2 linked regions of the Homo sapiens genome follow. The protein of the gene in region 2 interacts with the protein of the main gene of each other region in a biochemical or structural test. Each region holds a gene or a part of one and is shown on either strand. Other genes may lie near its edges.

What was found.
Region 1: the proteins of DCUN1D4 (region 2) and CAND1 form a complex in vitro, tested with the Homo sapiens proteins (one study listed by BioGRID).

What each region holds. Positions count from the first base shown.
Region 1 is NC_000012.12:67,297,571-67,314,403, reverse strand, and holds part of CAND1 (cullin-associated NEDD8-dissociated protein 1), read right to left. Parts: coding exon 16,741-16,833; intron 16,657-16,740; coding exon 16,551-16,656; intron 15,455-16,550; coding exon 15,309-15,454; intron 12,082-15,308; coding exon 11,789-12,081; intron 9,800-11,788; coding exon 9,658-9,799; intron 9,301-9,657; coding exon 7,807-9,300; intron 7,008-7,806; coding exon 6,912-7,007; intron 4,504-6,911; coding exon 4,334-4,503; intron 4,253-4,333; coding exon 4,088-4,252; intron 2,712-4,087; coding exon 2,604-2,711; intron 1,799-2,603; coding exon 1,574-1,798; 3' UTR 1-1,573. UniProt on the Homo sapiens protein: Key assembly factor of SCF (SKP1-CUL1-F-box protein) E3 ubiquitin ligase complexes that promotes the exchange of the substrate-recognition F-box subunit in SCF complexes, thereby playing a key role in the cellular repertoire of SCF complexes.
Region 2 is NC_000004.12:51,841,717-51,858,549, reverse strand, and holds the start of DCUN1D4 (DCN1-like protein 4), read right to left. Parts: upstream 15,398-16,833; 5' UTR 15,308-15,397; coding exon 15,283-15,307; intron 14,979-15,282; exon of another isoform or gene 14,965-14,978; coding exon of another isoform or gene 14,808-14,964; intron 14,550-14,807; exon of another isoform or gene 14,478-14,549; intron 14,307-14,477; exon of another isoform or gene 14,207-14,306; intron 14,179-14,206; exon of another isoform or gene 14,151-14,178; intron 10,346-14,150; exon of another isoform or gene 10,183-10,345; intron 10,129-10,182; exon of another isoform or gene 1-10,128. UniProt on the Homo sapiens protein: Contributes to the neddylation of all cullins by transferring NEDD8 from N-terminally acetylated NEDD8-conjugating E2s enzyme to different cullin C-terminal domain-RBX complexes which are necessary for the activation of cullin-RING E3 ubiquitin ligases (CRLs).

The sequences.
Region 1 (16,833 bases), on a different chromosome or scaffold from region 2:
AATCCTTACTAGAAGTGATGTCTTCTGCATTATCATCTGAACATTCAAAATCAAGCTGTTAATCTAATAACCACAGTATGTTATCATTTAAAATCACTGTATATTTGGATGTTAAAGCAGGTAGTAATACAGCAGGAAAAGTGTTTCTAATTCACAGTTTCAAAACTAAAGGGTGCAGTTTTCAAATATCTGATTGCTTAAATTGGTCACTCAATTTAACAACTGCCTCCTTCAATACATGTAAACTATGTTTGCACAGCATTAGGAGATGTCTTTTATTTCAGAATTAGTTCTTACTGTTACAGGAGCACCACAAATTTTAAGGAAGAGGCTACAGTGTGAAATGAGCTCACTGAAGGATATGTTAAATAAAATTTTAACTACAATATAAGGTACTGCAAAAGCTTTGTTCCCCAGCACAGATCCCTTAATCAGGAAAAGTAGTGAACACTTACCCAATACAATATGTAAATTCGCTCTACAGGAGATGGGGAAAAACCTAACTCAACTAAAAGAAAATACTATTATTAGCTAACAAACCTGTGATAGCTGGCTTCAGAATTTTCCTAAAAATAAAATTCAAAAGCATACACAGTATTTATATCCTTTGATAAGGAATGTAGACATCCAAACGGAATGAAAGAAAAATCTGGTTTTAAGAATTTCTAAGTGGAATCACACACACACAAATGGGTAACTGAGAAAAACTAAATATTCAAAATTTAAGTAAGAAGATTTATAATAGAAAAAAGTGGCAAATTGTTACTGTGACTTGATTTTCTGAAAACATCTGCAAATTCACACTGGCATTAAGAAAACCCAAGTCTCAAAAATTCTCCTTTCTTTCTCTCCAGATAATGTGTTTTCTGTGCAAAAATAAATATCTGAAAATTGCACTAATACTTATTTTAACTTCTATATTATGAATAATCTGCACATGCTGCTTTACAGACGATACATATTTGTAAACTTACTCATGCAAAATTAGTGTGCGCAACAGGGATATTGTTAATTTTCATACTTAAAAATGATACCTTATTATCTTTTAAAAATTGCCAAACTCTCTGAAATGGTTAACAAATCTTATATGGATATTCTTGTCTGCCAGCTAAAAATCAATTTATGTTGCTGAAAACAAAAAGTTATACAAGAAAAAGAAACATGGTTTTTGTTTTGCAAGATTTTTGATTTTTAAATGAGAAAATTTATAAAAGAAAGAAATTCATGGTCACAAAATTTTAACATTTTAATCCTAAACATTACAGGGTAAATAGATACTGGACCCTATCTCCATACTCCATAAAATCCTAACTTTTAGTTTCCATTTCAAATGTTGCTGTAACCACTAAAACACTAGTGGTTTTACAACCTCTGGATTATGGAAATACACATTTCTGAAATAAATGCTACAAAAACAACAATGGAAGAAAGCCAAACAAACAGTCTCCATGAAGGAAAAAAAAGTGGAACATTTTGAAGCTTTTAGACACTTCTCTTTCCATGTCTTATGATTAACCTGTCAATTCAGTGCATTGTATGGTCATATGTAATGGTCCCCATGGTGAACAAACATCTAACTAGTGTCCATTGATTCCAAGTTAGTAGATGATGAATCTTTCTGGATACTTTCAAAGATAGCCGCCAGCTCAGGGTTAGAACTGATCTGTGACTGGAATTCACTCATCAGTGGACTCTTCTCTGCTTCTGGAATGGTTAGCAGTGCTGCTACTGCTCTCATGGCAGATCGCTTTAATTCATCTTGTTTTTCAAACTCCTGCTTTACTGAGTTTGCCTTTACCTGTAAGATGGAGTAAACTTAGATTACATGCTATAAAAGACAGCTCTTACATGAACAAAATTTAAGCACATAAGATCTTCCTGCTAAAAGCTACTCTCGTAGGTCCATAAGGCATATTACATTCTAAGAACAACTGTTTTTAAACTTATTTTTAAAGTAGCTGTCTCCTTTTCTTTTAAGGGAATATTTTACACAAAGCCCCATTATAAAAACAGAAAATCTAGACCCAAATGATTGTAACAAAGAGAGTAGGACACTCTTTGTTTCAACTATCTGCTTAGCAAGTCTCACACTTTAGCCCCCATCAAGAAAGTACTCCTCTAGCTACCCTATTCTTTGCTATACTCTATTATTCACTTTTTCAAACACACCATATGATGACATCTCCAGGCCTTTATTCAAAGCCCGTTTCATCTTCTTGGTCTAAAAAAAAAAAAATCTTGATTTTTCGAGGTTCATTGCAAATGTTGTCAACCTAATATGAAACCTTCTGACTCCCCTTCCAACCAGAATTAAAAATTTCCTCTTTTGTGGCCTGATCACATTTTATCCCATATCAGTACTTCAAATATGTATCAGTACTTCAAAATGTTAACATATTGATATAGCAATAAACAAAAACTTTTAAGAATAGCCGTTAACAGGGCTAAGTTTTATAAAATATCAGTATTCGATAGGTTAACTTTTTAAACCAACTGCTACACAGAGCACTGGAATAGTTATATTTGGAAAGCTAGAGAAAAGAATTGGCTAGGAATCCCCAATACACCAAGTCTGACCTAGGTTGATACTTATCATTTCTTACCTTAGTTGTACATGTTGCACGTAATGGCTCAACAAGTCGGTCCAACCTCTGCAGTACTGCACTTGGACAAAGGGTAGACAGTCTCACCAACATTAAAAATGTCAGCATCTATTAGGAATAAAAAAGACAGAATTTAGATTTGACATCATTTTCTAAAAACAAAATACTAAATTCTGACAAATCCTTTAAAGGAAAATAACTAGCATGCAAAGTAAACCTTCCTTTTAATGTAATCTGCCAATCAGAATCAGACAGATTTGTCTCAAACAGATATAAGAACTAGAAAAGTGGTTTTCAATCTTGGTTGCACATTAGAATCATCCAGAGAGCTTTAGAAACATACCCATTCTTCAAGCCCCATCCCCAGAGAGTTTTACTGAACCTGTCAGAATATGGCACACATTATTTTTTTTATTTTTATTTTTTAAAGCTCATGTGCACCAGAATTGAGAATCATAGAACTAGAAAATTACTGAACTGGAACACAATTTCATAATAAGTTTCCACTATCATAACAGAGTTGACCAGTTATTCAGATTAATCCATGTAAAACCTGATAACCCATAAACCTTTTTCTCTTGGACTATAAACTCATAGAATTAAACAAGCACATCCTTTTACTTCTTGGTGGGGAGGCCCTCTTCATTGAACTTTGAGAGGCTCAGGTCACTACCACACATGGAAACCTAAGAGTAGGAGTTCGGGTAGTATGGCTCAATTACTGCTGAGTTACCACTTTTGTCCTGCTTGGCCAAAAGCCCTAAATGGAAGAGTAGATGAAAAAGACACAATGCATATATTTTTCATTTTTCAAATCACCCTTTTACTGTTCACATTTTAAATGGAGACGAACACACAGGAAAACAAAGAACACTTATATGCAAAATTCATTATCCAAACATAAGACGCAGTATGATTTCTCTCAAGTAGCTTCTACAGATTGTTTTGTATATCTGAAAAGTTCCATGTCCTATAACAAAATTCTTGATATTAAACACAGTATATTATATTGAAAAACAAAAATTCCTCATTCAGGTAAATGATACAGTTACAATTCAGACTAGCCCCAAAGGTAGCTCAGGAGACTTAATCAAGACAATGCTAAGAAAACCCTCCATGGGTAGCAACTATGGTCCAATGTTAAGACAGGCCAAAAAGTTACAGATTTATACTTTAAACAGCAAAATCTGTCGGGACTTTTTTGAGGGAAAGGATCTAGGGACTATTCACTAAGCAAGTGGGCACACAGCATTTTGCATCCACTGCCACTTCCTCCTCCAATAAAAAGGGCTCTGGATCTTTCTTACACGTCAACTGGTGTTACACTGCCTATTACTTTTGCACTTTATAGTTTACAATATGCTTATCAAAATCTTCACAGACAACCTGATTTTTCTCAGACACATGAGTAAATTACAAGGGTGAAAGTTGCTCTAGCAAAGTCTTCTTCTAAAACATTGTATAAATAGGCACAAACATCTTACCTTAATATCATAATGGTCCTTCAAACCATCTTCAACATGATTTAGAAATTCAAAGATATCAAGTCTATCAAGACAACTGTCTAGAAGTGTGTACATACACTCAAATGCTGCCTTTCTAATATCCAGACCATCATCAACCGTATGTTTAAATGGACCCATTTCTACCTGTTAAAGCAAAAAAGAACGTGTGGATATACAATACTTAAGTCAAAGACAAGCTCAAATAAACAGTGTGATCTAACTTACCTCTCTTATAAGCTCCTTTCTAACTTTTGTTTCATTGTAAAGATGTGGAAGAACAGTATCCAATAGATCCCTTATTAATGATGGCTTGTTATGTGCTGCTGAATTAAATGTGACCAAGGCTACTCTTCTCACATTCAAATCTGGGTCTTCCAAAGTTTTTAGGAAATCACCTGAAATATTACAAGAAAAGCAACAGACAGACATGATAAACTTAAAATACAATATACATTATATTTTCTCTAAGTTGATATAATTTATTTTTGCTGGTGTCATTGTTATTTCTTCAGTGACGGTCAGGGAAGAACCTGATGAAACACTAAGTGAACCATAACGTTTCTTTCAGCAGCAACGCAACTATCATTTCTGAAGGTGAATATATTTTCAATTGATAATCCACTCTCAGCACTTATAATGCAGAGGGTATGGAAGAAGAGTCCATAAAGTTCCTCAATATCACTTCTATAGATATAAGATATGACAGAGACAGAGCTAAAAAGACTAATCACATGCTTGATTCTCCTTGTAGTTCACTAAAAGCAGCAACAAAAATATTTTTAAACTAAGTTCAAAATAAGAATAAAAAAATGAAGTGAAGACAGACCCACTGCTTAATAAAGATGGAGTACTATTAGCAGATATACAATTAATCAAATGAAAGAGAAACGTGCCTCCAAAAGCCCTACTTTATTTCTGTCTTCAGTAAGAAATACACGAATTCACAGGAAAATAATATAAAAGGAGAAAATTGAAAGCTAACATAGGACAAAAGCCAGAGAAGCCATCTAGGTATTTTAAAAGTCTGCTTACTCTTGCAAATGTGGGCAAGAAAGTATAATGCAAAGATCTTTGGAGTCACATGGTTGGTGGTTCAAATCATTTTACTTGTTAAATGTATGATTTTGTGCAAGTTACTTTAGGCAAGAACCTCAGTTTCTCAGTCAATAAAATGAGGATTATAAACCTTTTAGAGCTATACTGAGCAGAATAAACGGCGCATATATTGTTGAAGACAATGTCTAGTACACACTAAGTATTCACATGTAGCTATTATTCATCATTATATGATCTCAACTCTATCATCAGCAATCTTTTAGAATACACAGGGAAATGTAGGAGAGATAAAAGACTTGAATGCCAACTTGAAAAACCTGCAATTTGAAAATATGGGAGGAAAGAGAGACTTCAGATACTGTAGATTGGGAAACCCAATGTTGATATCCAAGAAAGTTCCAGCACTGATTTAAAAAAAAAAGTCTGAGAAACAGCGTGGTTTCAAAAACAATATAAATGTACCAAACTAATCTCCCCTCCCCTTTATTTGCATACTAAACTGGTAGATTAGAAGAGTAATTACAATAGAGTATATATCCGCTTTCAGTAAAGCATCTAAAATATTGCTATTATGGACAAAATGGTGTCATGAACTAGCAATTTCAATTTTTAAAAAGTTTCCCAGGTGGTTCTGATGTTCAAATAGTCATGAATACTTAACTAGATCATAATTCAATTAGAATGCTAACTACCTGGCTGAGTAACTGTATCAACAATGCATACTGGTTGACTGCTGTCAACATGGAAAGATATTTCTAGAGATATGGCATGGGCCTCTTCCTCTGTCCTATTTTGCATAATACCAATGTCCTCAATAAACATATCAAAGCAGAAAATGTGTGGGGGAAATGCCAATAAGTTGTTTCTCATATAGACTTTAAATAATTTCTAGGCCCTAGCAATAGAACCCATTTGTGCCTGTGCTTTCCTTATTCTGAATTGGCAATCCCTTTCTATGCAGTTCAAATTTTATATTGTATTTTTTTTCTTTCTGGCACACTGAAGAATGGCACAAAGCTACAAAGCTTCTTTGCCAAATCCCTCAATCCTCCCTGATGGTTATCTCCATTATCCTGTCCTCAAGAAAGCAACAAACTAAATTCTGAGGTGTTTTTGGCTATTATCAAACTCTAGGAAAACCAATGATAAAAACAAAATGCAAGGAGGTTATAAAATCAGAAATAATCCCAAAAGCTAATTCTTGTCTTCACAGAAATAGAGAAGCCCTAGTTTTTCTTGGGTTATCTCCTCTTAGTTCTTCTGGGAATTAGCTCTCCCCCCCTTTATTTTTTATTCTTAGGTTATTTTGACCTTAAATATGGAAATCTCCATAGATCTCCTTGGGTGTTAGAAGTAATAATTGAAATTTGAGGCCTTAATAGCTCAAGCAAGACTCATTTAAATCTAGGGAGAAACTTCAGACTGGCCATATAAATCTAGTATCTTTTTGCTTTATCCACTAAAGCTATCTTAGGTCACCCCAAAAATATGGCTATCAAATATGTAGTTGACTCTAAAGACATGCTGGTATATTATAACTTCATTTATGTGCAAAATCATCTAGGAATAATTACAAACAATACAGGCAAATGCAATTTGTTAAAAGTTGTAAGATCATATCAATTTTCTTTTAAACAATTATTTTATAAGCATTTTAATTCCTCGATATTTCTAGTTACTAAGTTCAAGAGTTTCTTGAGAATTCTAAAGTCCAAAAATCAGTATGTTTATCTTTGTTTCCACTTACCTATGCAGTTCTTTAACAGTGGATCAATAGGTTGTGGATGGTCAGAAATTGTAAATTTCACAGCCGTAACCACTGAGCTTCGGGCATATGATGAGCCTAGTTAAAAATAAATTGCAAGTCTATTGGTATGTAGTCCACTAAAACTCACGGACATCATTTTTAAACCACTCCAAATAACACCAGTGTCTTCAATGCCTTAGAATTCTCCTTGGCCAAGAAGGGTATTTCTTATTGCACACATGAATCCAAAGGAGCAAAATTAACTTACTTATGAGCACAAAATATAATCCCATTAGATTTCAAAGAAACAATTCCTTCTGGGAAGGAGGGACTTGAAGCAGCAGTGGACGATCTCGCCCTCACAAAATAGAACTAGCTAAATCCAAAACCGCTTAAAAATCTTCAAATTTTTTACTAAAACAGAAAGCAATGTCTAAGAATGAATGGCTATTACTGCTATTAATATTACTACCTTTTACTTGTTCTAATGGGGATGACACTGGTAAATCTGAAAACTCTTCCAGAATCTTCCATTTGAAAAAAGTACTGTCACCAATTATACTTATTGTAATTAGTATCAACAAGCTCTTCAGATTATGTTAATTCATTAGATACATCTTTTCCACATTTTAACACAATATAGTAACATTAAAATGTAGTTATCATGAGGAATTAGAACAGATTTAACCATTATCTAATTACCACACTATCCTTTAAAACAACAAAATGTCATTTGAATATCACTCCATACTACGAAAGACAGTTTTTCTTCATCACATACTTAGCTTTTAGGTTTAAGAAAATATAGACATGGCTTAACTTCTTTATTAGGTGTCTTTTAAGGCAACCAACTATCAATAAAAAACTTTTTAAGTAAGAAAATCTAGATACCTACCTGATATCAAGTACCCCTTAAGCCGTGGAAGGAGAGTTTCTGGATCAATTAGAGTGAGTTTTCCTAGACATTCAGCAACAACATTTCTGGTTCCTTCCTCTGCACACTCACAGTGCTTTAGTAATAAGGCCCAGATGTTTTCAACATATGGTTTAAGGCCCACCACTGATGCAGAGCTAATAATTTCCTTCAAGGAATGAAGTAAAAGATACTGCCTTTTGGGTTGACTAGTTATTTCTTGCAGGACAAACGGCAGATATTCAGGAAGGTTGCCCACACTAATGCTGCCTAATGCATAGGATGCAGCTGATTTGACTTCTTCACTAGGAGATGAGAAAGCTTCTAGTATTACAGATTTTAGTTCCAACTGTCCACTTAAGTCAATATGATGCCCAACTTCTCCAAGAGAAAGTAGAGCTAAGAGACGAATGGAATCTGTAGACCTTGAGTTCTTGACATCTTGAATAAACTGACCTACTACAGCTGGTCCCTCTTTAGGGCATGCTCGAGTAAGGGCAGCTACACATTTGGCAATGGAATAATAAGACTGCTTATGAGTAAGAGCTGTGCTCTGAGAGTAAACTGGACCAGTCAGCATGCGCAACAAATCCATGTATCCTAAATTATTTGTTCCAGTGACAACCAGAGCTTGGAAAAAGTCTAGCATGGCACTAAGAGCTCCCCCCTGCAATAAGGGTGATCTCACAAGTCCAATAAGTTCATTGAGAATGGATCCACTTATCTTTGAAAGGGAGGAGGGATATACTTTTGCCAAAGTGGTAAGAAAACTGATGGCCATTTGTGAAACATGCATATCACTTTCGCTGATAAGAGGTGGGAGCTCATCTAGAACTGCATCAATCATGGCAGCTGTCAAGCTGTCACTATAGTTTTTTATTAGAATATCAAGGGCAGAAAGAGTACCCAGTTTCAAAGCTCTCTGGTTTTTTCTAAGAAATGAAGCAAGGATAGGAACCCCTTCTCCCAGAACAGGCCTCAAATCTATCTTCAAAGGTGACCCAGCAATCAGTGTCAATGCCTTTACTGTAGTTAACCTGGTAATTTCATTCTTTAGTCTCTCCAAGAAAATCTGAAGTGTATTAGGCAAGTCAGAACCCAAATTGTCTCCAAGGTTGCAAATAATTTGTCCCATACAGGAAATAGCCCTTTCCTTGACTTCCTGATCAATGTCAGCTGCTTTTAATCTCTTAATGGTACAGGTAAATAGATCTTTGATATAAGGAGTTGCATCAAACGAGGAAGGCTGATCTAAAGGACGAATTACTTTGACAAGCTGTTGAGTAACAAGAAGTGCTTCAGATGTAATTTTGTAAAATGGGTCTCCAACACAAGCCACCACTGGAGGAACCAAAGCCTGAACGTGAGGATGGAAGACTTGAGGAGAATGGTTACAGAGGATTACGTATAGACATGACAAAGCATCGATCTTCAAATTCGATGAGCTTGATTTATCATTCAGTGAGAAAATGATTCCTAAAAAGCCAACAAAAAATCCAATCATTGCTGTGCAGACTTTTAAGAAAGAAAAATTAAAAATCAACCCCTATAGTACTGCTAATGTTCCCACTTCATTATATTATTTCTATAAGTAGAAATTTTCACCATCTACAATAAATATTACAGCCAAATATTTTAGGGTGAGACTTTTAACCTTTTACTTACAAATTTCTAACTTCAGGTATTCAAGATTGTTAGATTAAAAAGTTAGCTCTATGTGCATATTAAGTTGTCACATATATTCCTTTAAAAGGAAACAATTATTTAAGCTTATCTAAGTCCTAACAAAAAGGCTACAATAAGTCCCAAAAGAGATTTATGTTTCTTTCATACCTGGTACAAGTACAGGAATGTGTTGAGTTAGGGCCCCAGGTAATACATTTACCAGCTCAGTTAACATGTTAAAACAACACTGTCGGGTCTTCACACTTTTTTCTTTCATCTGTTTGTGAAGAGCTTTAACAATGTTGGGAACCTGCAATTATCATATAGTCATTAGCTGGTTCAGCTGTTGGTATTTCCTCAGTACACTTAACATGAATTATGGAGAATGAGGATAAAGGGAAGAGTTTATCTTTTTTTGTTAAATTCCTAATTCAGCTATCTATTGCTATTGCTAACACAAGATCAAGTTTGTTGCATGTATTATATATGTTCTCTTGTAACTATATTTGCTTGATACTGATAAGAAATTACAGAAAAGCTATCATTTAGCTTTCCAGAGAGCAACAAAATAGTCTTCCCTACTTAATTTTTAATTGTGAAACATACATGACTAAAAAGAAATTAATAGGCTGGGCACAGTGGCTCACGCCTGTAATCCCAGCACTTTGGGAGGCTGAGGCAGGCAGATCACGAGGTCAAGAAATCGAGACCATTCTGGCCAACATGGTGAAACCCTGTCTCTATTAAAAATACAAAAATTAGCTGGGCGTGGTGGTGCATGCCTGTACTCCCAGCTACTCGGGAGGCTGAGACAGGAGAATCGCTTGAACCCAGGAGGCGGAGGTTGCAGTGAGCCGAGATAGCACCACTGCGCTCCAGCCTGGCAACAGAGCAAGACTCCATCTCAAAAAAAAAAAAAAAAGAGAAAGAAAGAAATTAATCAAATCATATTTTCAATAAAAAATTTAGGAGGTTAATTTATAAATGGTATTTTGAATGACAACAGCACAGATAAAAATCAAAGGAAACAAGACAAATTATGGAAAAGCAACCATCGAACAGGTCCTTTTCTTACTTTCCATTTGCTGTTAGAAGGAATCAACCTCACTTCAAATGTAGCTACAAGCAGCAGGGGTATGATTAAAAGACATCTGCTCTAAACTTCCTAATGTTTTGCTAGTCAGTAAAACAAACAGGGTCTCTACTAACAAATCTTACGGATGCAAAGCTATCAACGGAGCTTCTAGAATACCTCAACAGCAAAGCAAGTACAGAGTAAAAACAAAAAGCCAAGAAAAATCCCAACAACCAAACTACATGGACACATACCCTAATTACACAATGATCTAAGAACTAGACAAAACAAAAAAAATGTCTGACTTTCCATAGCATTGTCAGAATTCCTGGCAACTCTACTGAGCAATACCTGACTTCTATATACTCACTCACTTGCATATGTCCTCCATACACTTTATCTCATTTCCTTCTACAATTAATCTTCAACATTCACCTTTATGAGTAAGTTCACCACAAAAATGTATTTATTTGTACTACTTAAAAACAAGATAGATACAGTATGTGTGTCCCGTCCTCTCCACTGGTTTAATCCCTGGCAATATCTGTTTTGTAATCTATAAAAATTGACCTACTATTTGTGCATCCCATAGGGCTGCTGTAGAGATTACATATAAGATAGGAGAATGCCTGGTATGTAATAAATATTCAATAAATGGGAGCATATAATAGCTCTAATGTTTAGGATCTTAGAAAACAAATGCCCTCAAGTGAAAAAATGTGTATTTTATTAGTAAGTACTGGCATATATCAAGCATATATGTAGTAGGCACTACACTGAATGCTCTACACAGATCACCCAGCTCTCACAACCACAGGTAGATATTTCTAAGTACGTTCTTATTACAAATAAGAAAAGTGAGGTTTAATAAAATGACTAAATAACTTGCCCAAGATCACACACCTAAATTAGAAATGAAGTCAGTTATGTGATCGCAAGTAGTATGACTCCACAGCTCTAAGACTTCTCTATTAACATCAAAGATAAAGACTACTTTACTGAATCTTAAAATTATTTAAATATTGTTTATCATGTAAAGCCAAGAATAATTCAATTAGAATAGTTTACAACTAACATAATATGAACATGCATTAACTATATAAACATATCCTAGAACTTTCTGCTTCTCTATAGATATTCTGGAACTCACCTTTCCATATAAAGACAATTTTAAAAGCATTGCATTTACTATCATGATTTTCTAAACTTTACTTTAAAACCCACCTGACTCTGAAGCATTGTTAAAGGTGTTTCTCCCTGCTCCATTGCATCAGGGTCACATAGCCAACTTTGTACAGGACGAGTTTGCTTCAAAAGAGAAAGGTATGCGTGAAAAACATCTGCCTTTACATTCTCTTCACGCTCTTTAAATCTGGATATTAGTGCAGGAGAGACGGTCTTGTAGAATTCTGGAAGCATTTCATGCCTTGTGCTAACTACAGCATCCAAGCACTTCGCAGCTGCACGTCTCACTTTCCAACTCATGTCATCATCATCACTGTATTCATCATCACTCCCTAAGGGTAAGTTTTAATGTAAACAGGCTATTAATGACAAGAGAAGTATATCATTTAAAACAGAAAATCAATTGATATTCTTAACCAAATCAGTTAATCTAACTTTCCGGTAACATATACAGCAACAGGTAGGTTTCAACAGAACTAGAACTTGAACAAAGAGCTTGTTATTTCTGTAAATCTGCACATAAATTAAACTTAAAAAACAAACATAATGGTATTTTTAATTAGTTAAACATTTTCTCATTTACTTTGTAATGAACTGCTGCTTATTTTAACCCTTTAAAATCATCAATTAACACATTCAACTTCTTTAGAATATAAATATTTATAGTCATAAATTTCCCAGCCTTTGAAACAAAATTCAAAGAACTTACTTAACAGCATAGGAAAAATCAAGCAAACAATCAGGGACTTTATAAGACAAACCATGAAATGGATTTGTGGTAATAGAGTAGGTGATAAAAAGAATGGTTACCAATCCCAAAACACTGTAGAACTAATTTGCTGGGAATAAAAAGAAGGTTGACATCAGCTTTGTGACTACAAGGCTTTTCACTCAACTTGTTGATAAGCTGTGAGGAACAAATATGTATATTCTAAACCTTTCACAATTTTGTCTTAATGTACTTTAACAAAACCATTTTTGCTTAATTATACCAAGAAAATGCTGCACACTTAACAGAGGACCATTTTTTCCCCTAATGCTAAACCTTAAACATTCAAAGCAAAAGCACTAAGAATTGTATCTCACTTATCTATACTTGATGGATAACATGTGTGTGAAATCTCCAGAAAATCTTTCTTTCTAACACCATCAGGTTTAATTAGTTGGGTAATATGAAGTCAGAAAGGTGGCAGAAATATTAGCAGTTATCATGATAGTCTAAAATTATCTCACAATAATTTCTTTATTCTTAGATAAGACTATACATAGCCTTGAAATAATAGAGCGGAGTAGTAACTTTTTACTGGCTTTTATTCCAATTAGCTTAGTTTGACAGTCAAATGTAGCCAGCTAGGCCTTAGAAGATTCTACAGTATACAACAAAATAATAAAATTTTCCAACTCAAAAGCTTAAAATTCACCTTAGCACATTACAGGAAAATACAACCAAATACTGCTAAATGCAAGACGTTTGCTTATTTACCAATATCTATTCAAATAAAGTTAAAAGATACTGCCAAAATACACTATCAAGTTAAGAGCACATAAAATTTTTTCCATGTCAATACACTATGGCAATTGCCTCCCAGAAATATAAGCTTTATTAAAAACAAGATTATAAAAAATTAACAAATGTCCTTATTCACTAAAATTACGTTGATTTTATAAATCACAAAAACACCATGGTAGAAAAGTCATTTAATGGGTATAATTCATACTAAGTGATAAAGCAGGTGAAGTACCTAGTTTGTTATACAGCACACAAAAAAACAAAATTCAAAACCTGGAATATACATTGCTACTGCTTTCTTCAAAAGATATTCATATTAAAATATAAGCTAAAGTTTCCCTTCATTAATACAACCCATTTATTGATTGCCTGTGTGTCAAGTACTGTCCTAGGCACTGGAATAAAGCAGTCAATCAAGAGATTAAAACATCTAGCCTTCATGAAACTTATATTCTAATAGGTAGGAGACCATCAATTACAGTATGTCAGAAAGTTACTAAGTGTGATAAACAAAATAAAAACAATAAAATGAAAGATAGTTCTGAGGTGGAAGACTAGCTGAGGGATGTGTGAAAAAGGAATCAGGTATGACTGCAAGGTTTTTGGCCTGATCAACTAAGAAGAATAGAGGTACCATTCTGAGATGGAAAAGGCTAAAGAAGAACAGGTTAGGTGGGAGATGGGGAAGGGGCAGGGAAAAGATATTTTAGATATCCAAGCAGCAATATTAATTAAGCAGTTGCATATGAATCTGGATTCACAAGTGAGATCTGGATTAAAGATAGGATGTGGGTTGCCAGCATATTGATATTAAAGCCAGGAGACTAGATGAGATCAACAAAAAAATCAACAGTATAACAGGTTAAGTTCAAGGACTGAGCCTTGGGATACTCTAAGTACAGTGGTCAGGGTGAAGAAGAAGAAACAGCATCGAAGACTGGAGTAATCACAACGATAGGACTACATCCAGGCTAGAATGGTATCCCAGAAGCTAAATAAAGAAATGTTGCCGAGACTGAGTAATACGATAGGCAGAGTCAAACATTTGCAATCTCATCCATCACTGGAGGAGTGGATTCAAGAGAGAATGGAAAAAAGAAAATGGAACTGCATTCTTTTAAGGAGCTCTGTTGTGGAGGAGAGAAACTAGGCAGCAGCTGCTAGAGGAGTATATGGTGTTAAGAAACTCTTTTGGTACTTGTTTTTTAAAGATGGGTGAAATTACTGACTTGACAGGAAAGCTGTTATGTAAATTCATTCAAAGAATCAAACTAAAAAGTATTCTCAAAAATAACAAAAAATCCACCAACCTGTTTACCTAGTAATTTACCAACTTAAATATTTGTTATTATGATTCTTCCAATACAAACAGAAACAACTGACATGAGCAACCCCTATGTCCTTGAAGTGCTGCTACTACTTTCCAGAGTAAATATCATAAATCATCGTGTGATTACATCAATCTTAGGAGCCTCAGAAATGTTGTAAGCTATTAATGAATGTTAAATGGGGCCTCGAACAGTATTTAGAATTTTTCATGAACTATGAATAAACAAACTAATATTCTTTCAAGCCAAGCTGCCCTAAATATGTATATCTACAGATTCAATTCTTTCTAAAACCTTGGTTTATCTCCTTACAAAAATGCTTTGTAGAAAATTTGAATAGTACTTAAAACCAAAAATCATACATAGTTCCTAGCCAAGAGAAAACAAGTGGTAATAGTACTAGTTGTAAATATACAGATTTTTTTCTGTATACTTAAAGAAATAAAATTGGGCTATGGTGAGCAATTTTTGCTACATACTTTTCACTCACCTTATTAACAGCATTAATGAATGATTTTTAGACATGATTTTTTAATGTGTTGCATAACAGTTCAATACATGGATGCCCTCTAACTTAATTTGCTGTTGTCAAATATTGAGATCATTTCCCTTTTCACTATTATAACTAAATAAAACAAACAGTACAATTTGGACTAAGAATCATCTCCATCTATAAGTGTCTTTCACAAAAACTCAAAAGATTCTATTTAATTTGCAATACCTTGATCATCATCATCACCACCATCAGCATCCATTGCATTTTCATCTTCATCTTCATCATCGTAATTATAATTTGGATCATAGGTAAGATATTTAAGACAAATATTTATAATGGTAGAAACATGAGGATATACTTCCTTAGGACATCTAAAGACAAAAACAAAAGCTGCCTTGAAGAGCTGCATTTTACTCCTTGATTCATTACCTGCCACATTTTGCTTTATTACCAGCAATAACATAGGACAGTAGTTCCCAGACTATCTAGCACCAATGATTCTTGCTCTTTCTCTCCCATGGACTTACTATTTTAAAAGGTTTACCTTTCAAATTGTACTTATTTAATCAATTTTAAGATGAACTCCCCTAATCCCGATTTTAACTATGTTATGGTTAATGTATGGCAGTATAGACAGAAATCGGTATATAATCAACATGTTATTAGAAAACCAAACCCAGATGAATGTGCTCTTCAGTAACTAGGATTATTTGTGGAAATGCCAGTGCATATTCACCTAGGCTTGGTCTTCTACCGATGTAATGAGAGGACAGAACATATAAATGCCCACAGGGCCAGCAAATAAAAGAATACTTTGTGTTTCTCAACTAAAGGAACAAAAATGAATCTAACAATTTCTGATTTTCAGAATATGGTATGATTAAAAGCCACTTCTCAAAACCAGGAGTGTCAAGGGATAAATGCAGAAAACAACCAGTAAGGTCTCAAGACACCATGCTACTGCATTAGTCAAGAGGAAAAATAATGTTACTTATCTTGTATTGCCTTCTAGTACACAAATACACAACTTTTACTAAGCTTTTAAAAAATATATTAGAATCAGTTTCCAAATTGAGAATCACTGACCTAGCAAAATGGATGTGACCTAAGAAATTGTTGAAAAGGCAATTCACTACTTATTTCTGACGAATAATTTATCCTGCTGGGCTTTCAGTACAGACTACATTATTACACTGGCATTTCTTCCCTTCTAAAGTAAACCCAAAATAATTATAAATACCTTTCCAAAATTCTTTAAATAAAGTCCTAACAATGACAAGGAAAATTTTCAAAATAAATGTGATGACCACATTTTATAATAGCAAGATGACATTAGTTTCAAATACTGTATTGTCTGTTATATCTGAAATCCAAAAGGCCGCTTCTCCTCACACACCTAATGTAGACCTTATGATTCTACTCTTAAGGAAAAACTTTTTGTAAAAAATAGAGATCTTAAAAACTTACCTTCTTACAAATGATTCAAAGGCTTGAATACAGTACTCTCTTAATTCATCATCATCTACATTGCAAAATTTTACCACCAAAGGAATTATCTTCTCAAGGTATTCACCTAAGAAAAGCATAATGGTTCTTTAAAAACATGCATTAATTTTTTTAATTAAAGAAAACTGTAAAACTTTTAAAGATTTCTTACCTATTCTATGACCAGCTTGCCTACTAATAGCAGCAATACATTGTATGTAGGTTCTTGTTGTTGACATAGAATCATTTTTGGACAACTCTGACA
Region 2 (16,833 bases):
AAAATTAATTCCACCTCACCCAATAGTTACAGATGGAAGGGGAAGCTGTTCAAAGCAAAAGAAAACTTATCATGGGCTCAGGGCCTTGTACACCCTGCATCTGCTAATCTCTCCAATCTCATCTTCTACTCATCTTCCCCTTGTTCATTCTACTCAGCCACAGTGAGCTTCCTACTGCTCCATTAACACTCCAAGAACACTCCCACCTCAGCGCCTTTGCACGTGCTGTTCTCCTTACCTTGAGCGCTCTTCCCCCTAATAATAACATGGTTGCTCTCATACTTCATCAGGTTTCCATTTTAATATCACCTTTGATGGATATGTTAATTAGTCTGATTTGATCACTCCACAATTATGCATGTATCAAAACATCACATTGTACTCCGTAAATATATACAATTATTTGTCAATTAAGGATAAAATTCTTAAAAATCACCTCCTTACATAACCTTGCCAGACCAACAGAGCCCCATCTTCACTCTATCATCTTACCATGCTTTGCTTTTCTTCACAGCATTAATACCATCTGACATTATATTATATATTTGTCATCATCCTCTCCCATTAGAATGTAAGCTCCACAAGGGCCAAGACTTAAATCTTGCCCATTGCTGTATCCCGTAATATTAATACCTAGAAGAGTACCTGGCACATATTAGGTGCTCAATAAATATTCAACAAATGAATAAACGCAGATACAAAGGCACCAAAGGCTTAAATTCAATACATTCAGGGCACTTCAAGTGATCTTCAAATGTGAGAAGTGTCATGGTAAGAGGAGACTGAACAGGAAGGCAAAGATCAGAAAATGAAGAACTTGTGAATCCTGCTTGAGCGTTTAGATTTAATCTCCTAAGGATCTGTACCTCAAACACAGGCACCAGAGACCATGCAAACGTAATGACAGGAATGGCACATTCCAGCAGCATCAATTCTAATCAGCAATAATATGACAGTCTTACATGAAAACAAACATAATCCCCACATCAAGCTGTGCTCCCAGGACCCTGAAACAACTTATTCCACCAAACTCTGTACAGGAAAACATTGGTGGGAAGTCTGAGAAGCACTCCTTTGAGAGTCTTGGTGCCATGGAGGTGTTCTGATCAGGAGAGTTATTTAAAAAGATCACTCTAGGACAAGTGTGCAGCAAAGATGATGGGTGATCTGAATTTAGAGTGGCCATTTATGGAGATGACTAGAAGTGACTGAGGTGGGAAAGCATTAGGGCCGTAAGTTAGACACTGGCTGTAAAAATGGAGAGGAGAGATTCTGAGTACACTGGAGTTGCAGAAAATAGATATTTAGCTTACACAAATTCAACTCTTCTCATTTGGTCAAAAAAAATAAAAAAGGAAGAAGCGAGATGAAAAGAAATTTCAGTTGTCTCACTAACTGCCCACCCTCCCTTCTACTTAATGAGCACGAGACATGACACATGAATAGTCACTCTGTTGGTCTCAGTTTCCACATGCCAATCAGATTTTGTGCATCTCACAATACGGTATGAGTCGAGTATTTAAAGTGATGTATTTTCATAAAACATGGTCCCTAAACTGAAGTTGAAGACGAGGCCAGATGCTTCAACTGGTGCTCAAATAAACAGCCAGAGATCTATTCCAATGCTGGAGGAAGGAATAGGCTGTGCTGGATTCTTCTGAGACAGCTTCCAAAGAGGAATCTTCTGCAAGTGTTTCCAGTGGTATTTTTAACACCAATGATCTTCACCTTACACAGGGACTTTAGAACCAACCTCTATATAAAATGTGATTGCAGTGTAAGGAAAAACTAACAGGACTGCATGTGAGAGATGAGCAAGTGAGGCACTCAATGGTTCATGTTCTTTTGTCCAATTCTCATTTTATTAGCTTGAGCGGAGTCAGAGAGCTAGCTATGGCCAAGCTGGGCAAAACTCTTATCTTCTAACTCCCAATCCAAGGCTACTTCTTCCATTCTAAATTATTTCCAATAAAAGCAAAAATATCAATCTAACTTTACACTCTGTAATAGGAAAAAAGCAGCAACGTTTCCTAACCAAAGCTGTCAACAAGCAACCACACACTTAAAGTAATTTAATATTAAAGAAAAAAATTTTAAAACTGGCTGAATCTAAAACAATTCACCATTTTTCCCCCAGGGAAATAATGGTACAGAAAAGATTTAACACCAGTGTTAACTTTCTATTTTTAAGCACAATTCGCTCTTCTGGTCACTAAAGCATCATCAAAGTGTTTTATTATTAAACTACAGCTGAACAATTCTCTCAGATATAAAAGTTTTAAACAGTATTATGCTCTTAACAAATGCTTTTCAAGTGACGATGAAAATGATGAAATAAACCTGTAAAGGCGGCAGAAGGAAAGGGCAAAATAGTGACCATGTTATTGCCAAAAAAGCAAAACAAAATTGGACAAAATTAAAGGTTACCATCTAACCTTGGCACTCATCTAAATGTCTCTGGAACAGAACAAGAACACGACTGAGGTATAGGGATCTGCCTCTCTAACTGGGATTCATCAGGGAATGCTTAAGGGTGTTTCAAGCCATGGGTCACATGGCTCAGCCTCCTGAAAAGTCAATTGTACCACGTGATATGGGAAAAGAAAACAAAAATTGTTAAAGCCAAGGCTGCACTGTGGTTGGGAGCCACTCTTTAGATTTGCCTTGTTTCCTTCCTTCTAGAAACACATGCCCTCTTTTCCATGGGTTTCAGATAGACTAGGGATGAGAATGTCAACGATGTGGAGCAGAGACCCATTCCAACCCACAAAGGATGCATTACAACCTTTTACTTGAATCACTGAGATGTTGTATTTGCTATTGCAGCATAAAAGAAAAAAAATTCTAGTCCTCACAAGGCTCTACGTGATCTGACCTAAGTCATCCCATTCCATTATCCTTGCCTACTCCATTCTAGCCACACAATTCGTGAATATTCAAGTGAATTCCTACCTCAAGGCCTTTGCATTTACTGTGCCCCTCAGCCTCCATGACCCTTGACGTTCACAGGCCCAACAGCTATCTTTCCTGAAATATCTATTTAAATGTCACCTCATCAGAGATGTCTCATCTAACTTCTTTATGCAAAACAGTACCTCCATCTCCCAGTGGATTTAGATTTTTTTCATAGCACTTACCACTTCCTGATATTAAAAGCTTTGAAATATAATTCACATAGCATGGAATTCACTCATTATAGTGTAAAATTCAATGGTTTCAGTATATTCAGAGTTGTGCAAACATCACCACAATCTAATAATAAAACATTTTTTATTAGCAGTCATTCCCCATTTCTCCCTTCACCCCTCTTCAGCTCTAGGCAACCACTAATCTACTTTCTGTCTCTATAGATTTGCCTATTCTAGACATTTTATATCAGCAGAGTCACACAACAGGAGGTCTTTCATGATCCTGACATTATATTAAATATTTATTTATGTCTTTGTCACTCTTCCTAGAGCCCAAGTTCCATGAGGATAGGGACTTCCTTTTGCTTTATTCACTACTCTATCCCAATATCTTTTGGAGTATCCCTTATCAGAAATGCTTGGGACCAGAGCATTTCAGATTTCAGATTTCTTCAGGTTTTGTTGTTTGTATTATACTCACCAGCTGAACATTCCTAATCCAAAAATCTGAAATGCTACAATGAACATTTCCTCTAAGTGTCATGTCAGCACTCAAAAAGTTTCAGATTTTGGTGCATTTTGGGTTTCAGATTTTCAGATAAAGGACACTTGACCTGTACCTACAACAGCACAAACCTAGCACAAGGCAGGTACCAATAAATAGGGGAATAAATGCTTTAAAAATAGTTACTGAATTTAGCAACATGGAGGTTACTCCATGACCTCAAAGACTGCAATGACAGAACTGAGACCAGAACAAAGTGGGCTGAGGATTGTATGAGTGATGAAGAAATACAGACTATGTCAGGCAAAGACAACTTGTTCAATAAGTTGGCTATTAAAGGGGAGACTAGAAATGCATGTGGGTTTGAAGGAGTTTGGGTTTTACAATGGCAGGACTTGAGCATGCTTCAAATGCTGCTATTAGTTTTGCTTAGTATCCTGGAGGGTTACAGTAGCCAGAATGTGAAGAGGCAGGTCAGATCACAAGTCAGTGAAGATCTAATATGCACTCAAAGATCATAGTACATATGTTTTTAAAAAGTACAAAATACAATTTTAAGTAAAAAAGATTCCCTTAAAAATGAGGTACATCTCAAATAACCTGAAATATAAAATGTACCATAAAGTAAAATCTATGTCAAAACCATAAAAAAGTAGTGTTTTAAATGATTTACAATACCAATTTACAACTCTGTATGCTAACTGATAGTCACTAGCTACATGACATGGCACAGGTCTCAGTTTCATTTGTAAAAACAAATATATTCACATTTGAGGCTAAATTACTAAAACACAAAGATCTGAAATGTTTTCTATACTGTAAATCTAGGAAAAACCAAAACCTAGGTTTATGGGTCAGTTTCATACTACATGTCCTTCATGGCTACAAGTAGGAATTTCTTTTTCTACGAAATGGATAATCACAGTGCCTGCCTCATAAGGATATCGTGTGGATTAAATGAGTTAATGCTGCACTGTGCTTCAAACAGTGCGTGGCACAGGGGAAGCACTACCAAGAATTGGCTATTATGTCATAGGCGAGCAGGAAGGGTCTGCACGATCTGCCCAGTGCAGTGCCCATGGGGGAGCTGCTGCATCTTTTGAGCCCCATCTCCACAGCCCAAAATAAACCCAGCTTCCTAATTAAGCTATTAATATTTAAATGAAACCATTGGCTACACAGTGGAATCACCTAAGAAGACTGAAAAACACCAAATACCAGGGCCCCAATCCAGATCAATTAAATAAAAATGGGTGTGGGGCACCACGTGTTTCTCAAGCAGCCCAGGTGATTCTAACATGCAACCAGAGAAGTAGATTCTATCCCTGACTCTCAACTCAATCCCTGGCGTGCCAGTAGCCAATCCACTCCTGGAACAACCTCAGCACTGCTAGACAGGAATCTAACTCATTCACCATACCCTATCAGCACACGATGAAAAGGCCAAGGTCCAGGAAAAAGATTGCAGAGCTGAAAAGCAGGGTAAAAACCAAAAGAATTGAAAGTAGCAGGTGAGGAAGGTGTTAACTAACTTCATTCTCCTCATCAATAAATATTTGCTATTTACAAGGCACAAAAGCCAAAGGAGAAAATTGATAAGGGAACAGGTCATTCAAAGTGACTCAGCATTTTCACTGAACACAGATCCAAAGTTAAAGCTATCCAAGCATATTGCTGCTGGCTTTTTCTTCCTCTTGCAGGACTCAAAAAAGGGGCTGGGAGAAGAAACCATCCGCCCAAGGGAGGCAGCATCCATCCATCGCCCACCACACTGCCTGTGCCTGCTGGTGCTATCCCAAGGGACTCAGTCACTTCAGGACACCCGTCTGGCTGCACTCCCAATGTGACATGGTACAAAGGGCCCTAGCTTCATTCTCCTCACCCCACCTACCCACTGAAGGTGAGCACAAATGATCTGTACTACCCACTGAAGCACACAGAATCACTGGGTAGTTCACAGTAAAAATCTTTCCATCTCACTAATGTTAAATGAGCCCAGATTTTGGTTAAAGAATGTCAATCAGCTCTGATAACATAAAGCCCTGGGTTGGAGTCAGAGCTCCAACTGAGTCCCAACTGAGTGACCCTGTACATGCTTCCAAACTTCACTGTGCCCGTGTCCTCATCCATAAAGCCGAAATAACAGAACCTCTTTGCGAAGCTACTGTGGGGATTATTAAATGAGATGGTGCATGTCAAGCACTTAGCACAGTGCTGGTCCATATTATGTGCCAATCAACGTTAATTGTTTTCATCCCTATTATTATTTAGAACGTAGAAGACACTGAGACAGACTGAACCTAGAACTACAAAAAGACAGGGCAGAAGAGATCACAAGGTGATGGTGTTTAAAACTACTAATTCACTAGCTATTGGACTTAAATGTACAACTATCCCGTTTCCTGTTTAATTAATAATTAAGAAGTGATCTGTGGCTTAATTTTGGGAATTGCATATGTAGGACAAGACATTAAACTTACCCTAACCTACAGGAAAAAAAATAAAAATAATTTCAAAAATGTTATGTAAAAATGATGTTAGTAGTTGTTTTCTAGTTTTGCTGCAATGTCGTTGAGATCTCCTATATTTAAAAATAACAAAGTCTATTTAAATAAAATCTAAGAAGACTAAAAATGACTATTTCATTAGTTAAGAGTATGAAAATACTTTGCCACAATTCTTCAGTTTCCCACTTAAAATCAGTTTTTAAATGTCTACTCTCATTGTAAGCAAACCAGCAAAAATGAGAGGGGATGAAGAAGAATGGGAAAGAAGAGACTCAGAAATCCCAGATCCTGATCCTGCTGGGACTCATTCCAAGAAGAAAAGAACCAAGAGATAATCCATCAGCTGGCTCTGTCAGCATCATTCATAGGCCAGTGACAAAAGAAAAAAAAAGAATTCCAATATACATGCAGTGTTCCAATCAGGGTTCAATGAAAAGCACAAACAAAATGTTAAGAATGATTTCAGTGGCAGTAGAGGGTTACCAAGACCATGGAGTCAGAATGCTTGAGTTAGAATCTCAATTCACCACTTATAAGCTGTGTGACCTTGAGAAGGGGAGTTAACCTTTCTACACCTCAGCGTCCTCATCTGTGAAACAGAGATAATAACAGTCCCTAACTTATTGAGGGTTGCTGTGAGGATTAAATGAGTTAATGCAGGCAAAGCAGTTGAAGCAAATCCAAGATCATCACTGAATTCGTGTTAGTCCCTCCCCATTCCCCTTTGCTCCTCCTCCCTCCCTGTGCCCCACCTGGGACTTCTCTTTCCTTCTCTCAGTTCCTTTCCACTCATACACTCTCCCTGGTGCCTCTTTTGAGTTCTTCCCACCGACCCCACCCCACCCCTGCCACCAGCTCCTGCCTAGCCCTGCACCTCACCTTCCCCTCCACTCTAGCCTACCAAACACCCACTCTCCTGCCACAGTTCTCTGTCCCCACCATGCCATGTTGTCGCTGGGCTTGGAAAGCTCCCACCTGACCCCATATGCCACCTGCACATGCATACACATCCTGTTCTTCACATAATCCAACTTCAAAAGCTAAAACTCACATGACAACTGCTAACCATTCCCCACATGTTCTCAAAGCCCCCGGGGCATCCATCTAACCTAGCAGGCATCATCGTCCCATGCATCCATTCCTTCTGTCTCCACAATGAACTCACTGAAGGAAGCTCCTGAAGCCCCGGTCTCCCCCACACAGTCCTGCCTGTGACAGCAGCACCTGGCAGCAAAAATCCCCTTGAATGTTTGCTGAATGGCTGAGTGAGGGAATGCCTCATTTGGTTCTGTTCTTTCTTATAACTTTTCTTCTCAAGAGTGATTTTTTAAAGGCTACCTAGGAGACTGTCATCACACAGTAATTGTAAGCATCAAAAACACTTTACGTGTTTCATCTCATTTAATCCTTTGGACCACTTATGATTTTTGCCTCCTACTTTCTTCCCTCTGCCCTCCCCCACAACTCTAAGCACCCCAGCCTCTGCTGTTCCTCAAATATAGGCCTGCTCCCCACTCTGAGCTTCTGCATTTGTATTCTCTCTGCCTGGAATGGCCCCTCAGCTCCATCAGGGCTTAGCTTAAAACCTCCTTAGTGAAGCCTTTCCTGGCTCCACTATTTAAAATTACAACACCCTCCACCCCACCCCACGCCCGCACACAGGGGTGCCTGCATGCACCCCTTCCCTGCTGTTTTTCTCTACAGAACCTATCACCATCTGACGTATTACACAATTTACTTGTTACTATCTGCCCCCTCCCCTACACTAAAAGGAAAACTTCATGAAATATGAAGAGCAGGGCCTGGTACATAGTAGATACCCAATAAACACTTGGTGACTGAACAGCCTTCAACAGGCAATTTTTAGGCATGAGGGCTCTGAAGCGCACACAGAGCAGCTGGGTAACTCTACTCCAGTCCCTTGGCTAGGAGATGACAGAGCAAGGATTTGAATTCAGCCATTTTGGCTTTCTTGCCTCCCAACCTGACCCAGATAACAATTAAAAGACATCATCACATCCAGGGAGAAAACCCGAGCCCTGCATGTCTACAGGCCACAGAGAAGCCAGAAAAGCCATCCACTGGAAAGCCGCTCACCAGAACAAGTCATCTAACTCAAGACACTTCTGTGCGGCAAAGTATTATTTATCAGACTGATAATTTATACAGCACTGATAGTTTTTCTTTGGATTTCATAGTTCAGTAAAAACGAGAGATTTATCATGCCTTTATTATACTGTAATATCCTCAGGAACAGCAAAGTGACAAATCATCAGCTAATATGGAGGAGGCCTAAGGTAACATATGTTAAAAGCCAACAATTGTGGTAGTGGGGCAGGAGGAGAAGCACTGACTACAAGGGGACACAAGGGAACTTTTGGGGTAATGAAATGTTCTATATCTTTAGTAAATTCACCCAACAACACTTAAAATGAGTATAATTTTATAATACGTGAAATTATACCTAAATAATGTTGACTAAAAAGGTATTTGGTACATCAGATGTAATTTTTGGCTAAACAAAATAAACATTCCACTAAAACACGCACACACACACACGCACGCACACACACACATATTTCTGTAGCTAATATTCCCACATCAGAGCCAAAAAAAAAATGCACAAGGAGTTATGTATTAGCTCCTAGGCATCCCAACTTTTGGGGGACAAAGAATTAGGAAAAAGCAGCAGTAAAGAGTGGCACATGATGAGACCCAGTGGGCTGGGCTAGTGTGTGGTTCGGGAGTCCTGCCTGACCACCAGCAAACACAGCTCCCACGACCCACAGCTGATATCGACTGTGTCCTCCTCCAGTCCTCTGGGTCACCTCTGACCAGAATGTACAGGCAGCCAGGATGAAAAAGATACATCACTGCTCTTCACAAGGGCTTCTACCACGTATCTGACCAGCGACAGTGACAAGTCTGGATGCTGAAGTATCAGAATTCTTAGTTGAGAGCATCAGAAACTAATTCTAGGTAATTTAAACAGAAAAGTGATTTAAAAAAAGGGGAGGCGGCTATTAGACAGTTCACAGAATCTCCCCCTGGCCATAACAATGCCTAAGGGGACACAGCAGACTGCATCATCATTGCAGCAACAACTAGACCTTGCCTCTAGAAGCAGCACAGCAGCCACCACTGTGCATCCCCCCAGAAAATGGCCACATGGGCTACTCTTCTTTCCTTGCCTCCAGCCTCAGGTTCACAGTCTCAGGCGAGTGTGTCTGAGAAGATCTGCCTGCCAGGGTAAGAATTCTCCAATCAGACCAAGAGTCAATGGACTGACAGTGTCCATTACAGACACTAATCATAAACTAATATGGAGGAGGCCTAAGATGACATATGTTAAAAGCCAACAATTGTGGTCGTGGGGCAGGGGGAGAAGCACAAATGGATTACTCCCCGTCTCTGCAAATCTACTGATACAGGCCAGCAAAAAATTTCACAAGGAAAAAAAAATCCTCGAAGGCAGAACTAAAATAAATCATACCACAGGTAATGCTATTTGAAGAGGGCAGGGGTCTTTTTCATATCTAGTGTTTTTTTCAGTACATTAGTTACAAATGACAAGCCTATCTTCCTAGATTGAACATAACTCATTAACAGCATTTTCTGATTAAAAGCAATTCAAACCTGAAGTAGCAGATACTTTGCTACATCTAAAACTGTCACACAATGATTGTTAAAATACCTAATTCTATTTAGAATGCATTTCAATGTTTTCCTTCTTAAAACACATTTTAAAATACATGTTCTGCTTAGAATACTTCTCAAGAGGTACTTCTCCTAATGTAAATTTCAAAAGAAAAAAAGCAAGCTATGAGAAGAATTAATACCAATTCGAGTTGACCAACTATAAAAATTTACCAGCATTTATGTCAGATTCATCAAAGAAAATTTTACTCTGTAAATCTGAAGAAAGACTTTCAGTGATCTCACTATATTGTTAACTTAAGAAATAAATCCTTAGGACCAGAATATGGATATAAAACAAAAAGAAGGGAAAAGGACAAACACTCTAGGCCCCTTAACATCAGACCTGTTAATGCTGCCTTAACCTTGTGCAGGTAGGACGCTGACACGAGAGACCAGAAACGGACGTGTGCACATTCACAAACACTCCTTCTGTTCCCTCAGCACATCACCAGCATTTTACTCTTTCCTTGAGAATTTCTCCACGCCACATTCTCTAAAACTGATATCTGCATGTTTGAAAAATATTAAATTAGTTTGCATACAACTGACTTTGTCTAAAAAATGCAAAGAATGAGTAGGTGAAAGCTTGTGTTCCTTGAAGAAAAATCTAAAGATAATGAAAGACAACAGGAACAGGAAGAATTAATTTTTCTAGATAATGCACAAGTTATTCAATAGTTGATCATTTAAGTTCAATTCAATACATATTTGGGTAGCTATGCAAGGCATCATGCTAGATGCTAAAGTGGATACTGGGTAAGACATGGTCCCAGATCTCAAAAAGGTAATAATCTAATTGGGGAGGGGAAATAAAAGTAAACAAGCAGCTATTGTTATGTAACATAAAACTGAGTAACAGAAGGAAGCACTGCTTCAGAGATTCCATGAAAGGAGAGTCTGCTAGAGAGGGAGCACAGTAAAGAAAAATTCTAAAACAGCAGCACTGAGGGCAGCTGGAGCCGGGTGCAGTGGCGTGCATCTATAACTTCAGCTACTCAGAGACTGAGGTGGAAGGACCCCTGAAGCCCAGAGTTCGAGTCCAGCCTAGGCAACATAACAAGACCCAACCTCTAAAAAAAAAAAAACAAAAAAGAAAGAAAAATGTATTGCTGGTTATTATAACACTGTAAGAAAGGCTGTCTCAGACATAAGGCCATGGCAATAGGTATGGGAAAGAGAGGCTGGGCATGGGAAGAGATGCAATCTCTCCTTGCCACTGACCAGGGAAGAAGAGGATAAGAAATGTCCAGGATTTCAGTGTGGGTTATTAAAATTACTGCAGCTTCATTTACCAAATGAATAAAATTTATTAGTTTTGTTCTCTTCTTTGACTATTAAAAAGCTCAGTGCCAAATATTTCTAACATATGGCAAGTGTTTCTGTGTACCTTACAAGTCTATATATAAATTTTTCTTCTCTTGACAGGGTTTTATCTATATTTAGCAAGTCACCCCTAATTCTTTTAGAATAAGGCAGAAAATAAATCAACGTAAAGGTTGAGACCAAGCCAGAGACAGCTGGCCAAAGTAGCTGGTTCAGGGATATAACCTGCAAGTTGCCAACCCAGCGCATTCTTCTCACCCTTCTTCCACCCTACGAAAGGCCATATCTTACAAGAGATGCTGGTAAATGCCAGACATTCACTGTGTCAGGCTTCCTCACAGCTAGCAGTGGCATGAGATCAGTTCAATCCAATGACACTGAAATGGAACTCTCCAAAGTGAGTTTCTGCAAAAGACTTCTCTGTTAACAGGGAGTTATAAGGAAATATGCACCTTCCTTCCCTGCTTTCCAATCCAGGCATGATGTCTGGTGCTACGGCAACCATACTGCAAACATGAGGCAAATGAGCCTGAGGAATAAAAGCTAAAACACTAATAGAAGAAGAAAAAGATGCAGAACCTAGATCCTTAATGACATCATTAAGCCACTGCACCAGCTTTAGAACCAACTACTTCTAGGTTTCTTGCTACCGAACAATAATAAGCCCTATTATTTAAGCCATTAATTTGAGCATTGTATTGGCAAAGGCATCCTAACTGATACAAGAGATCATCATGAGGTCAGTTTCTCACAGGTTGATTTTTATACTGCTAAGTTAGCAGGATTATTAGCTATTAATTATTAGTTATAATTAGCAGATGATGATTGAGATAATAATGTAAACGTAGCCAGGAAGAAGGTAATAAGCCAAGAAGAGCTGCTGGGAGCAACTTAACATAAAAACAGAAAAGGAGACAATGATAAAGTTTGAAAAAACATGATTAAGTGCCAGTAGGGGTACACAGAGTTAACAACAGAGGAAGAAGAGAGTGAAGTCCACTAAGAGAAAATGAGGCAGGCCTTCTTTTCTGGCAATGTTACAGACAAGATTACCTAAAAATCCTTCTTAATATAAAACAGTCAAAAATTCTGGATAACGTGTAAGAAACATCTGTTTAAATGCACAGCTACGTTCACAAGAAAATAAAGGACCTCCCCAAGCGCCAAAAATCAAAAAGGAACCTAAAAACCAGAGCAGAAAGTGTGTAGGAGCCTAGGGCTTTGGGGAATGGAGGGAGGTGGGCTATATGTGTATAAAAAGCACCTGCCCTTTGGGATATAATAGAACAAAAGAAAAAGAGAAAGCTATGACTAGCTTCATATTTTCTTTAAAAACACCATTTTGAAGACAATTATAGCTCTTGCATGTTTTTCAACCTCATCACTTTACCCTCTGCAAGAAAAAATTCCAGAGTTAAGTGCACATTTTTGTACATATTTTTATATTACCAAGAGTTTCCTGGATATTTCACCACACGATTAAGTAAAATATGACAGATAGATATAAATGATCTCCACAAGAACACCACACACATTGCCCAATTTTTCACTCATCATGAAAAGAACCATCAAACAATCAAGTATCCAAGTTCAGTATGTTTGTAACCACACCAAAAGGTTTACAAATCTTAGGACTTCTTGGTAATATTTTTATCATCAGAAAAATTACAATATTCTTCTAATGACTATGTTGCAAGTAGTTTCATAATACCTTATATATTACATACAAAAATCTATCATCTCTGCATTAATCTTAGCCTTCTACATTACAGATTCTGGAGTCCCTTCCCTGTAAACAGTAAAGGGAACTGGTGAAGGATGTGACGTTTAGGGAGTCTACTTATGGAGAGGAAGGTTTCTAGTATTAAGGAGAGAAGGAATTGCAGCCTGCAGCTAATAATAAAACAAGCAAACAAAAAAAGTCTTATGGTTCTCCACTTTTTACAGTTTTCTTCTATTCTCATTTGCTTTCCAAGCTTCTTCGAAAATTGAAGACGTCACATATTACCTTTGCTCACCTTCACATTTCCACCCTAAATTCCACTAACCCACCTCCATCACTCATTTCAAGACAGTTATTTTTTCAAACACCCCAAGAAATACCAACACATAGTTTATATTATCGTTACAAGGGTTACGTGTACCTCCACTGTGTTCTCATATTTATGCAAGGGAATGCTGGAACCCAGTGCTTACACACACTGGATGCCAAAATTAAATACACCATTCTAAAGGCTGCTTTACATTGTGTTGCTTCTTAAATGTTTTCCCACAACCCGTGCGCATGATGGTACAAGACCAAGCATTTATTCCACAAGTAAGGCCACAAAATGCAGGGGGAAATTCACTTGGGGACCAAGAACCTAAGCGTGAAGAGGGCTGCGCCTGGCGTGGGCTCTCCCTCTCCCAAGGGAGAAGGGCTGGGGAGTCGCTCCGTCCCTGGGAACTCAACCGCCTCCCGAGAGCGCGCAGGAGCTGGCCGGGGAATAAAGCACGAGTTGGCCGAGCAGGAAGGCTCCAAGGGCGCGCTGCATGCCGGGACCCGTTTCCACAGTTACCCACGTGCACCCAACCCAACCGCGGCCGGGCGCGGCCGCGACTACAAGTCCCAGAATTCGGCGGGACCGCCTTTCCCCTTCATACCCGTTGACTGGAGACAAACCCTAAAGGAAACCCCTCAAGCGCCCTCCCAGCACGCCTGGGAGAAGTCGCGCCCCCCGGGCGTGGGGCGCGGCCTAGGGCCCGGCCATCCCTCTAAGGAAGCGGGTTCCATGGCACCAACCCCCACACCTGATAGCCAGAAATTAGACAACTGCGTCACAGACTATCAAACCCACGGACTGCCAGGGACCCCGACACCTCCCCGGCGCCAAGCCCCCGACCCGGCCATCAGGGCCCGACCCCTCCGGCTCCCGCTGCTGAAACCCCGCAGCCCGCACCCCTGCCCCGCCTCCTAGTCCCGCTGCCGGAGCCCGCGCCAGCGCTGACCTCGCTTCCCGCCGTCCGGGGGGAACCACGGCCAGTTCCAACCTTAGGGCACTTACCCCGTCTCCTCCACCTCAGCCCCGCCCCCTCCTCTCTCCGCACCCCGAAGCTTGGACTCCCCCCTTCAAGGGACCCTGCCTCGACAGGGAGAGGAAGTACCTCCCCTAAGCACAGTCTGACACCCCCTTAGCCCGGCTCCGGACCGAATCTGGACGTGACAGTCCTCCTGCCCAACTCCGCCCCACCTCCCCTTCCTCCCCGACTAGCTCCTCACCCCCATTTCATATTCTCCACCCCTGCCCCCACTCTGCCACCCCAAATCCTACCCACCTTTTTCTCCTCTTCCTCCCAATCGCCCTACCCTTCCACACCTGCCCCATCTCTTTACCCCAACATCTTCCACTCCCACCACTCTCCGTTACCCACCGCCCTTCCAACGCCCCTCCCGCCCCGCAGGACTCCCCAACTACCATTACACCCCAGTCCCTCCCACCACCTCGCTTTCCCGTTACATCAGCCCTCGTCCAGTCGCCCGCCCTCCTGCCCCGCTCGGCCGCTGCCCCCATTCCCCCACCCCATTGTTCGCCGCCCCCCCCCCACCCCCCCGCCAACCAGCCCTTCTTCCCATTGTCCCCGCCCCCGCGCCCCCCTCGCACTCACCCGCCTTTCTCACGGAGCCGCCCGCACCACTCAGCCCTTTGGAAATCCTCACCCTTGTGCCCCGCTCGCTCGCTCGCTCCCTCCCTCTCCCCGCCGGTGCCACCCCCCCACATCCCCGGCCCTGCCCGCTACAGCCCAACGCTGCCTCCACCTCCATGCACCCCGGACACTCCGATCTCGGCCCTTCATCGCACGTCCAGCCCTCCCTTCCCCCAACACTGAAAGAGAGCCAGTCCCCACCCCCCTCACCTCCGCCCTCCCCGCAGGCCGGTCCCTTCCCCCCACGCCCGCCCCCGCCCCACGCCGCCCGCAGCGTCACCGCCCGCCCCGGCCCCGGGAGGGGAAGGGGTGGTTCCCAGGCAGGGGCTCCCGGCGCGTTTCGGGACCCGAGGCGTGGGGCGGGGACTGCGGGAGCCGAGTGGCGAGTTTGGCAGCCGCCCGGCCCCGGCCCGCTGGCTGGCTCTCTGCTACTCACTGACAGCGGCGGCATCCGAGTGCATTTTCAGGCAGCTCACACCCGGCTCGCCGCCCAGGCTCCCGCGCTCGCCTCGCGGTCCCCCCACCAGCTCACTGCACCTCGGCTCGAAGCTGAGGACCCGCCGCCGGGCACTCCCAGCCCGCCCATCTCGCCTTCTCCATTGGCTAAACCGCGGCTCAGGGGCCGCCCTGCTGCGTCTCTCATTTGACAAAAGGAGTGCCCATAGCGCCGGTCTGGAGCTGGCAACGAGGCCCCGCCCCCCACTGGCCAATACGATTGGTCCTGGGGCCTTGTCTCCGTAACGCCCCTGGCGGAGGCCATGCTCCGGAGCAGCGGGTTGGGCCCGGCTGCTGTCAGTCACCCCCAGGGGTCCGAGAGCGCGTGTAGGGGCGAAGCTGGGAAATTGGTCCACCTTGACCCTGAAACCCCGCCCAGTGGCGGGCGGGATTGGTGGAGCTGGAGACCCACCAAGAAAGATGGGTCGGCGTCTGAAACAAAGCACGCGAAGTGTTTCCCAAAGAATAGAGCAGCGCAGCGCAGTTGGGGGCGGCTCGTACCAGCTGCTGGAAGTAGGGAAATGCGTCCGTCCCTAGCGCCCGGCGCGACGCGGCCGGGTCTCCCGCCACTTGTCCCACGACACTTGTCCAGTTCGCGCCGAACTCGGACTGGGACTTCTCTTGTCAGCTGCTTCCTACCGCAGGAAACTGGATTAAGAATTGCCGCGTCTTAATTTCCAGCAAACCTTCTGGTGGGGAGCAAATTTCCATTTCTCCTACGAAGATCCATCCTCTCCCCACTTTCGAAATGTACTTCTTTTCCAGAGTCCGCATACTTGTTTCGCAGAGTTCGCACACTTCTTTCCTCTAGTCACTAATGTCTGTTAAAGAGGCTTCGAATGCCACGAGCATTGTCCGTCACACACATCTGTATGCCCCAGACATCAGACAGAAATACAGGGCCGCGCTCTGAGCTGCGGACTGAGCCTAACACATGGACGAGTCCAGGGGGCAGACCACCAGCCCGTGAAAGACCCCCGGCGGCATCTAAGAAAACCTGTCACTCCCGCGGAGAGGCCGTCCAGAAATTGAAACTGGCTGTTATTTGGCAGAGGGAGACGTTAATTTTGGTGAATTCTTCTGACCCTAAGTCAAGAATTCGCACCATTTCCATGAGTCCTGCCCTGATTTTTCAATACTTGAAGCTAACTTATCACACCGCATTATGGTAACAGAACAATATTTCGAGATATTAACGGAGGATTCCCCCCACCCCAACCCACCCCCACCCTACCCTGCCTCCACCCTCATCCCAGCCACCAACTCCAACAACAACACACCTACAAGGCATCCCCATATCCTAAGGCCCTGGGCCATCTGGGAGCCTCAAAGAGTAGGTGACACCACAAATCACAGGTAACAGAACGCACGGTCTTTTTGGTTTTAGATTTCTACAGCCCAGGCTTTTGGGTTTCCAGGCTCTGAAATTTAGATTTTAAATCAGGACACAAATGTTATGCTATTTGGAAGGGGCTCAGACAAACCAGTTTCT